Homo sapiens: one gene and its partner. The protein of the gene in region 1 interacts with the protein of each later gene in a pairwise test. Each region holds a gene or a part of one and is shown in the gene's direction. Other genes may lie near its edges.

Evidence for each region.
Region 2: the proteins of ANKS1A (region 1) and C9orf152 interact in a two-hybrid assay, tested with the Homo sapiens proteins (one large-scale study listed by BioGRID).

Annotation. Positions count from the first base shown.
Region 1 is NC_000006.12:34,892,255-34,895,754, forward strand, and holds part of ANKS1A (ankyrin repeat and SAM domain-containing protein 1A), read left to right. Parts: intron 1-3,500. UniProt on the Homo sapiens protein: Regulator of different signaling pathways. Regulates EPHA8 receptor tyrosine kinase signaling to control cell migration and neurite retraction.
Region 2 is NC_000009.12:110,204,679-110,209,778, reverse strand, and holds the start of C9orf152 (uncharacterized protein C9orf152), read left to right. Parts: upstream 1-1,619; 5' UTR 1,620-2,199; coding exon 2,200-2,392; intron 2,393-5,100.

The DNA of each region.
Region 1 (3,500 bases):
CTCTGGTTAAAGCTAGTAAAAGATTTCTGAGCAAATGAGACCATGCCTAGGTCAGTATGTCCTCCCTTTTTAGATGTGGACATAGTGAAGGGTAGGTTACCTCTGCTCCCAACCCTCTCTCCCCTAAAGACCCTGGATTATTTAATGAGAGCTGTGGAATCATAGCTTCAGATTTGGCCTTTGTATTAGCGGCCATATTCTACCCCTATTTGTACTGCCAACTGTAACTTGCCTGAAGTAAAGCTGGCAGAAATAGGAGCTTACAGTTGCAGTGGAATAATTGTTCCAGACCACACATGTGTTTGTGTATTCACCTGTTTGTGTTCCCCCATCCCGTATTCCACAAAGGCTTTGTGTTTATTCTTAAGCTAAAAAATGCCCTCTTCTCTTACCCATCCCTTTTCCTCTACACAGCTTGGGCTTAGGTTTTAACTTCTTAAAGCCCTTCCTGATGACCCTAATACACACAGATCTCTCAAGCTTCCATGTCTTTGGAGCACGTCATCTGTAGTGTACTTTGCTTGCCTAGCTTTCACAGTTGATCGCTTTGGCCTGTCAGTATAATGTTTACATATAGCAACCCTCACCGATTGATGCTATACCTGAGAATCAGAAAGTCAGCAAAGAAGACTTCTACTAGAAAAACATGTTGTTACAAACTTTGTGTTCTTCTAGCCTTCCTTATTTACTGGATATTTATTCAGGAACAGTATAGCATTATACTGTCCACTTTTTCTTAGCATTAAGCATGTTATAGCATTAAGACCACTTGTTTTTGTGTCAGACTTCCTGGATTCACATTCCACTGCCACCACTGACTAGCTGCTTGACATTATTCAAGTTAACCACTTTGATACTCAATTTCTGCATCTGTAAAATGGGGATAATACTATCTGCCTTATAGGTATCATCTTAGATAATGTGTGTACGGGACTTACCATAATTCCTGGCATATTCTAAGTCCTCAGTCTTAGTCATCCTCAGTTCAGCACATACGGTTTTGCTGTGTTGCACCTGTTCTGTGCAAAGTACCATGCCAGACACATTATTTATTTTTATTTTTGTAGAGATCGTGTCCCACTATGTTGCCCAGGCTAGTCTCAAACTCCTGGGCTCAAACGATCTTCCTGCCTCAGCCTCCCAAAGTGCTGGGATTATAGGTGTGAGCCACAGTGCCCTGCCTGACACATTTTAAATGGTGTTTTTTCATGCTTGGGGATCTGTTTTCCAAGCATGGCAGACTAGAAAGAGTAAATAAGGGAGAGGAATCATTCATATACCCAATGTTTACCCATGATATACTTTGTGCCAGGCCAAGTGATTGCTAGATGCACTGCAAAATATGTCTGAGACCTGGGACATTGTACGTGGTCTGTCAGAATTAGCCCCTCTCTTCATACATGTTCTGTTCCCTTACAGAGTTTATAGTAGTATGATACGTCTGTGTAACAGGCCAACAAAAAGGAGACAGAGAAAGCACACAAATTTAGCATAATTTATCCTACCTCCCGGCTGTTTGAAGCTATTAACATAGGTGTATATAGCCCTATATACCTATGTAAGCCCCAAGCATCAGTTTACTGTATCTTTGTGCTATGATTTATGTTTATTATGACTGTTAGCCATCAAATAAAGATTAAATTATGTTCAATATAGCTTGTTAGTGAAAGAAGAAAAAAAATATAGTTTTCTATCCAAAATGGTTTAAATATAATTTTTTTACTTAAAAGGATAAGCAATAGATTATCTAGAAAGCACAGTTATCCAGAATGTCTAGGCTTACAGAGGCTCTGGATTGCATGGATTATACTTTATATAATACTAACTCATTTTCTGATTGTTTAATGGATGCATGCCTTCGGTCTATACCTTGGGAGCTTGGGATAGGCATTCTATCAAACTTCTTAACTTACAGTATTTTTTAGTTCTGGGCACGTAGCGGGCACTCAGATTCTCATGTAACAAGACAGTTTGCTATGTTTAGAGTTATAGTGAAATACTGATTTCCAAGAAAGAAACTCCTGTATAAGAATATTGTAAGATTTGGTTAAAAGTAAATTCTATCAACTAAAAGGCCAAAAAGATCTGAGAAAAGGAAATGTTAAAACCAATCATGGCCAGGCACAGTGGCTCACCTCTGTAATACCAACACTTTGGGAGGCTGAGGCAGCTGGATCACTTGAGCCCAGGAGTTTGAAACCAGCCTGGGCAACATGCTGAAATCCCATCTCTACGAAAAATACAAACATTAGCCAGGCGTGATGGTGTGCACCTGTAGTCCCAGCTACTCGGGAGGCTGATGTGGGAGGATTGCTTGAGTCTGGGAGGTTGAGGCTGCAGTGAGCCAAGATTGTTCCACTGCATTTCAGCCTGGGTGACAGAGCTAGACCACGTCCTCACACCACCACCCCCCAAAAAAAGAAGAAAAAAGAAAACCAGCCACAATAGCTTCAAACTGTAAATTGAGTTATGAACTAAATACTGATGTATATGAATGGAAAAGTAAAGTGAAATGTACTTCTTAGGGTTCAGAAGCACAGAGAAACTAAACCGAAGATCACAGTTGAGGAGATTATGTTATGGTTTAGGAATATTTTATGCTTAATTTCTCAAGCATGAGAAGGGTGAATAAGAAAAGAGGAAGCCAAGGAGACTTGCTGGAGAATCTGAAAATTTATAGATAGTAGCAATGAATGTGGCTTTAAACTAATTTTTATGCTGCCATTTCATTGGGGGAATAAAAGAAAAAGAAAACTATTCCAAAACAGATATGAATTTCCCAAGATGTGAAAATGTTCTGAAATAAGGAATGAAGCATGAAAAATTTTGAAAAATGGACCTCATTTGGAGGATAATAACAGATTCTCCCAAATGTCAGAAAATATGGCAAGTAATTCATTGTTGTAAAGAAAGCTTCCTAATATTTATTTAAGGACTTTGGTTTTTTTTTTTTTTTAATTAAAAAAAAAAATTTAAGAGACAGGAGTCTTGCTAATGTTGTCCAGGCTGACCTTAAACTCCTGGGCTCAATTGATCCTCCTGCCTCATCCTCCTGAGCTATTGGGACTGCAGGCACATGCCACCATGCCAGGCTAGACTTCTTCCTCTTGTTAGTGTTATTATTTTTTAAACAGTGATTAGCATAACCATTCTATTGAAATGGTCCTTTATTCATTCCCAGAATGGATCTGAACCTTGGAGATTATAATGGCGTGACAGCCTTTTCTCATGCTGACCTTTTTACTTTTGCCCACTACTGTGCCAGATTTCTTTTGAAAGTGCCTATTTTGAGCAAAATGATTTTAACATCTTAAGGAAGAGGGCAACACTGACCATGTAAGGATTGTAGAATGGAAGGGCCTGGAAACAGATCTTGTGGATTTGAATTTGTCTGATCTAAGTTCCTGCTCTTCTAAGAGAATGCAAAAACAAGATAAAATGCAACTATCCACTAGCATAGCAGTTTTCTGGGTCTTCCACTAAACTATCTTAATTAATTA
Region 2 (5,100 bases), on another chromosome or scaffold:
CGAGTAGCTCGGACTACAGGCATGTGCCACCATGCCTGGCTAATTTTTGTAGATACAGAGTTTCACTATGTTGCCCAGGCTGGTCCTGAACTCCAGGGCACAATCAATACACCCACCTCAGCCTCCCAAAGTGCTGGGATTACAGTTGTGAGCCATTGTGGCCAGCCTACTGCCATGATGTCTACTGCCATGATTTCATGGCAGGTGCAGCTGGTCCAGCATGGATGGGTTGCTCTTGCCTTCATGATAGAGTGATCTACCGATAAAAAGGTATGAGGAAGCTTTGGCTATCTCTCTCGGTATTTTTTTGAGACAGATTGAGCTCTAATCCAATGTGATTGCTGTACTTATAAAAAGGGGAAAATTGGGCACAGAGACACCCACATAGGAAGAACATCATATTAGGCCGGGTGTGGTGGCTCACGCCTGTAATCCCAGCACTTTGGGAGGCCAAGGCGGGCGGATCACAAGGTCAGGAGATCGAGACCACGGTGAAACCCTGTCTCTACGAAAAATACAAAAAATTAGCTGGGCGCGGTGGCGGGTGCCTGTAGTCCCAGCTACTCGGGAGGCTGAGGCAGGAGAATGATGCGAACCCGGGAGGCAGAGCTTGCAGTGAGCTGAGATTACGCCACTGCACTCCAGCCTGGGCGACAGAGTGAGACTCCCTCTCAAAAAAAAAATAAAATAAAAAAATAAAAAGGAAGAACATCATGTCAAGATAAAGGCAGAGATTAGGCAATGTTTTTGCAAGCCAAAGAATACCAGAGATTGCTAGCAAACCATCAGAAGCAAGGTGAGAGGCATGGAACAGATACTCTCACACAGCTCCAAGAAGAAACCAACCCTGCTCACACCTTGACTTTGGACTTCTAACCTCCAGAACTCTGAGACAATAATGTTTGTTGTTTAAGACATCCAGTTTGTGGGATTTCGTTATGGCAGCCCTAGCAAAACTAACATATACTACCCAGTGAAGATTTGCTCTCCATCTTCCACGGCTCCCCCACATCAAATGACTAGATCTTGTCTGGTTAATGTCCAAAATGTCTTGTAGGTTCAGGCTCTACTCTGTTTCCATTGCCTCTGTAGACATATTGGGTAATTGGGTAATCAGTAAGCACCGTGATAGGAGAAGATAGAAAGGGACTTAGTTGACCAAATGCAGCAAGGCTAGGTCAAAGCTGGTGTAAGAGGGAGAGGGTCTGGGATTCAAAAGCAATGTGGAAATGTTGAGGCTGGCAAGCAGAGAGTGAGGGGATGCCTAACTTACCACTTGGTTGGAGAATGCTGAGACGGCAGAGGCTGCACCAAATGTCCAAGGGGTAGGGCTGGCCCGAGGCCAAGATTCCCCTGGGCTCTGTCCCATGGCTGACTTTAGGGCTGAATTTTCACCTGGGGTGTGTGTTGGGGTCTGAGTGGAGATCTTGGGGAGATCTTTGCTACTGGGTTTCTTTAGGGTGTGGCCGCGGGGCACACATCCAGAGGCACCGACCTTGTGAAGCTCCCGAGGGTGTTCTTTGAACTACTGCAAACCCAACCGGCAGGTTTGCTGAAAAGTGGCCACGTTCCAGTCCAAAATGTGTGAGCAGAGCGCGAGCTTAGCACTCCCCAGCCCCAGTCCCAGCTCTGCCAGGAAAGGGGAGACTTCACCGTGGCACTGGGAATTGGATTCTAAACTTTAGGATCAAGCAATGGAAGGACCTGGAATAAGACACCTTCTTGACCCCCCTGAAGGGCTCTGAGCAGCTGGGCTTGCCTTTCTCTTTGCTCCCCCAGTCCTCCCCTTACTTCTCGGTCTCCCACTCCCCATCACTCCTTTCCCTGCCTCCTCCTGCCTGTCTCCATCTTCCTCCCTCTCTTTCTTCTCTCGCCCCATTAATCCCCGCTTGTCACTATCACCTCCTTCCTCCAGTCTTTCCCCCTTCGCTGCCCCTTCTTTCCTCTGACATTTCCTTCTCCTCTTACTGCCACTGTCTCCCACCTTTCTCCTCCCCCACATTTCTCCCTATCCCTACCTCCTCTTCCCCTTCATCTTTCTCCTTCCCCCTTATTTTTCTATCTCCTTCCTCAGTCCCACTCCTCTTTCCACCCTCCTTTTGCCCGTCACTTCTCCTTCTCCCTCACTGCCCCCTCCCTCTCTCTCCCCTCCCCAGGTCCTGCCCCACCCAGCTGTGTTTGCTTTTCTCCCGGATCCGGATGGAGGGGTTGCCCTGCCCGTGCCCAGCCCTGCCCCACTTCTGGCAGCTTAGGTCTCACTTAATGGCTGAGGGCTCCAGGACTCAGGCCCCTGGGAAAGGGCCCCCACTCAGCATCCAGTTCCTGCGAGCCCAGTATGAAGGCTTGAAGAGGCAGCAGAGGACCCAGGCCCACCTCCTGGTGCTTCCAAAAGGTAGGAATGGACAGGTGCTGGGGAAGGAGAGACTTACCATGGGAGACCTGAGTGGCAGAGCTGCAGGGAGGCAGAGCCAGGGCTTTGCCAGCCCTCCCTCCCAGTGGGGAAGAGCAGGGGAGGCGGGCTCAGGGCAGCTCTGCTCAGCTGTCCCACCTGCTAAGGGAGCCAGGGGCCTCAGCCAAGCACCTGGCTGCCAGCACTGTTCCTGGCCTCTGCTCTGATGTTCTAATCTTGCTAGACTGGTCAGCCTGGTGAGCCAGGCTTGGCCCCCCTGCTAGCCCAGGTATGGCGATAGGAGCTCTGCTTCCTGGCTGGGTCTAACTAAGGCACCTCCTACAAACCAGAGAAATTCACTCTGGAGGTAGAAGACATGGCGTTCCCAACAGCCTGGGAACTGTCTGGGCCAGAGGACGCCTAGGGCTCAGAGACCCATGAGGCATCCCAGGCTCATCCAGCCTCAAACATCAGGCAGGGAGGTGTGATTGGACACAGAAACCCCCTCATGGGGAGAAACCTCCTCCCTTTAGGAACTCAGATTTCATTCCAGGAGGGAGTTAGAGGCACAGGGCTCAGAAAGCAAGGGCATGTCAAATCCCAGCCCTTCCTCCTCTAACAGAGGAACAGGTTGAGGGAGAAGGGAAGATACCCTGAAAGGTCAAAGCTGGGCTCTGTGGGATTCTGTGGTTATTTGTAGAGTTCAGTAGACTCTTTGGGCTGCCCTTTGCCAGGCCAGACTGGGCAGGAATCAGGGGCCAGAGGGACCTCTCTGTCTAGGGCAGGAAGTGTGCTGCCTTTTGGGAACAAAAGTGGCACCTCTGAGCTGAAGGAGCCCATCTCCCATTACCTGGGCTGTTGCCAACCAATGGAATCCTCGTTCCTGGCAGGAGTGAACTGGCACAGCCAAACAGTCACCATCTCTGCAGGGCATAAACTGAAAGGTTCCTAAAGCTCTATCCCACCCTTGAGGGTATTTATTCATTCAGTTATTCAACAAACATTTATCAATTTAAATCCCTATCAAATGGAAACACAATGCTTAATACACCTGCAATTCAGACTCACAAATCTAATTGCTTAGTGGGGATGATCCAAAGACATCTCAAATTCAACATGCCCCCAGAGAATTCACTATACCCTGTGCTCGTCCTTTCTCCTGCTCTTGGTAACTCGGTACCCCCTTTCCCATCATTACTAGGTGCTAAATTATGGTTCATGCAAGGAGTGCCCAGGTGTGGCTTTCTCCGAGAAGACTTCTGACCTCCCAGCTAGGTCAGGGTCATTCAGGGCACTTTCAGCAGTTTGCAGTTCCACATTTTTTTTTTTTTGAGACAGATTCTCACTCTGTTGCCCAGGCTGGAGTGCAGTGGGGTGCAATCTCGGCTCACTGAAACCTCTGCCTCCCGGGTTCAGGCAATTCTCCCTGCCTCAGCCTCCTGAGTAGCTGGATTACAGGCACCTGCCACCATGCTCGGTTAATTTTTGTATTTTTTTTAGTAGAGATGGGGTTTCACCATGTTGGCCAGGCTGCTCTTGAACTCCTGACCTCAGGTGATCCACCCACCTCGACCTTCAAAAGTGCTGGGCGTGAACCACCATACTTGGCTGAGTTCCACATTCTTTATCTAACTGTGAGAGGCAGCATACTGTGTAATGGAGTGGTCATGTACTGGGTCTTGGAGCACAGCCTGAGTTTGAGTCCCAGCTCTGCCATTTACTTAATATGCAGCTTTAAACAAGTTACATAAATTTTCTGGGGCTCAGTTTCCTCACCTGTCAATTGGGAATAACTGTAGTACCCAAATCATAGGGTTATTGTAGGAATAAAATGAACTAATATGTATAAAGCTCATCAAGGCCTTATGCACTGACTGGCTGAGGACAAGATCACGTATGTCACATGTATCTAAGTAGGAAGGCCACTTGAAACACTAGCACTGAATGTGAAGGAGTAGGTAATTATCCAGGGAGAAATCAGAGTAAGGTGACAAAAATAAGGTGAAAATGGCACTAAGGAGGCAAAAGAGCAATTAATTGTCCCCTATACTTTAGCAACAGGATAGATGGTGGTATCTTTCCTTGAGAATACAGGAGAAAAAGGCTTTTTGTGGAGAAAAAGGCTTTTTGTAGAGAGAGATGAACTTGTTTTTGAATATACTGCATTGGAGATAGTTGCCTGTAGACCTTCCATCCAGCCTGGATCTCATTTGGGCTGGAGAGCTAGATTTGGGGTTATTCATCTATAGATGGTAGCTGAAGCCATGGGCATGGATAAAACTGTGGCAAATCCATGTGTAAATTGATAAGAAACTGGGATGAAAATTAGAGTTCTGGAATACTCAAATATTTAAGGAACAAGAGGAGGAAATGAAGCCAGGGAAGATGGAGAGAGCAGTCAAAATTTGAGGACAGGCATATCATTCAGCCATAAAAAGGAAAGAAATTCTGCCATACACTACAACATGGATAAAACTTGAGGACATTATGCTGAGTGAAGTCAGTCAGTCCCAAAAAGACAAATACTGTATAATCCCATTTACATGAGGTATGTAGAGTAGTCATATTTAAAGAGACAGAAGGAAAGCAGAATGGTGGTTGCCAGAGGCTGGGGCATGGGGAAGTGGGGCGTTATTGTTTAATGCTTATAGAGTGTCAGAGAAACTGAAGAATTCTGGAGATTGGTTCCACAATGTGAATGTACTGAACAC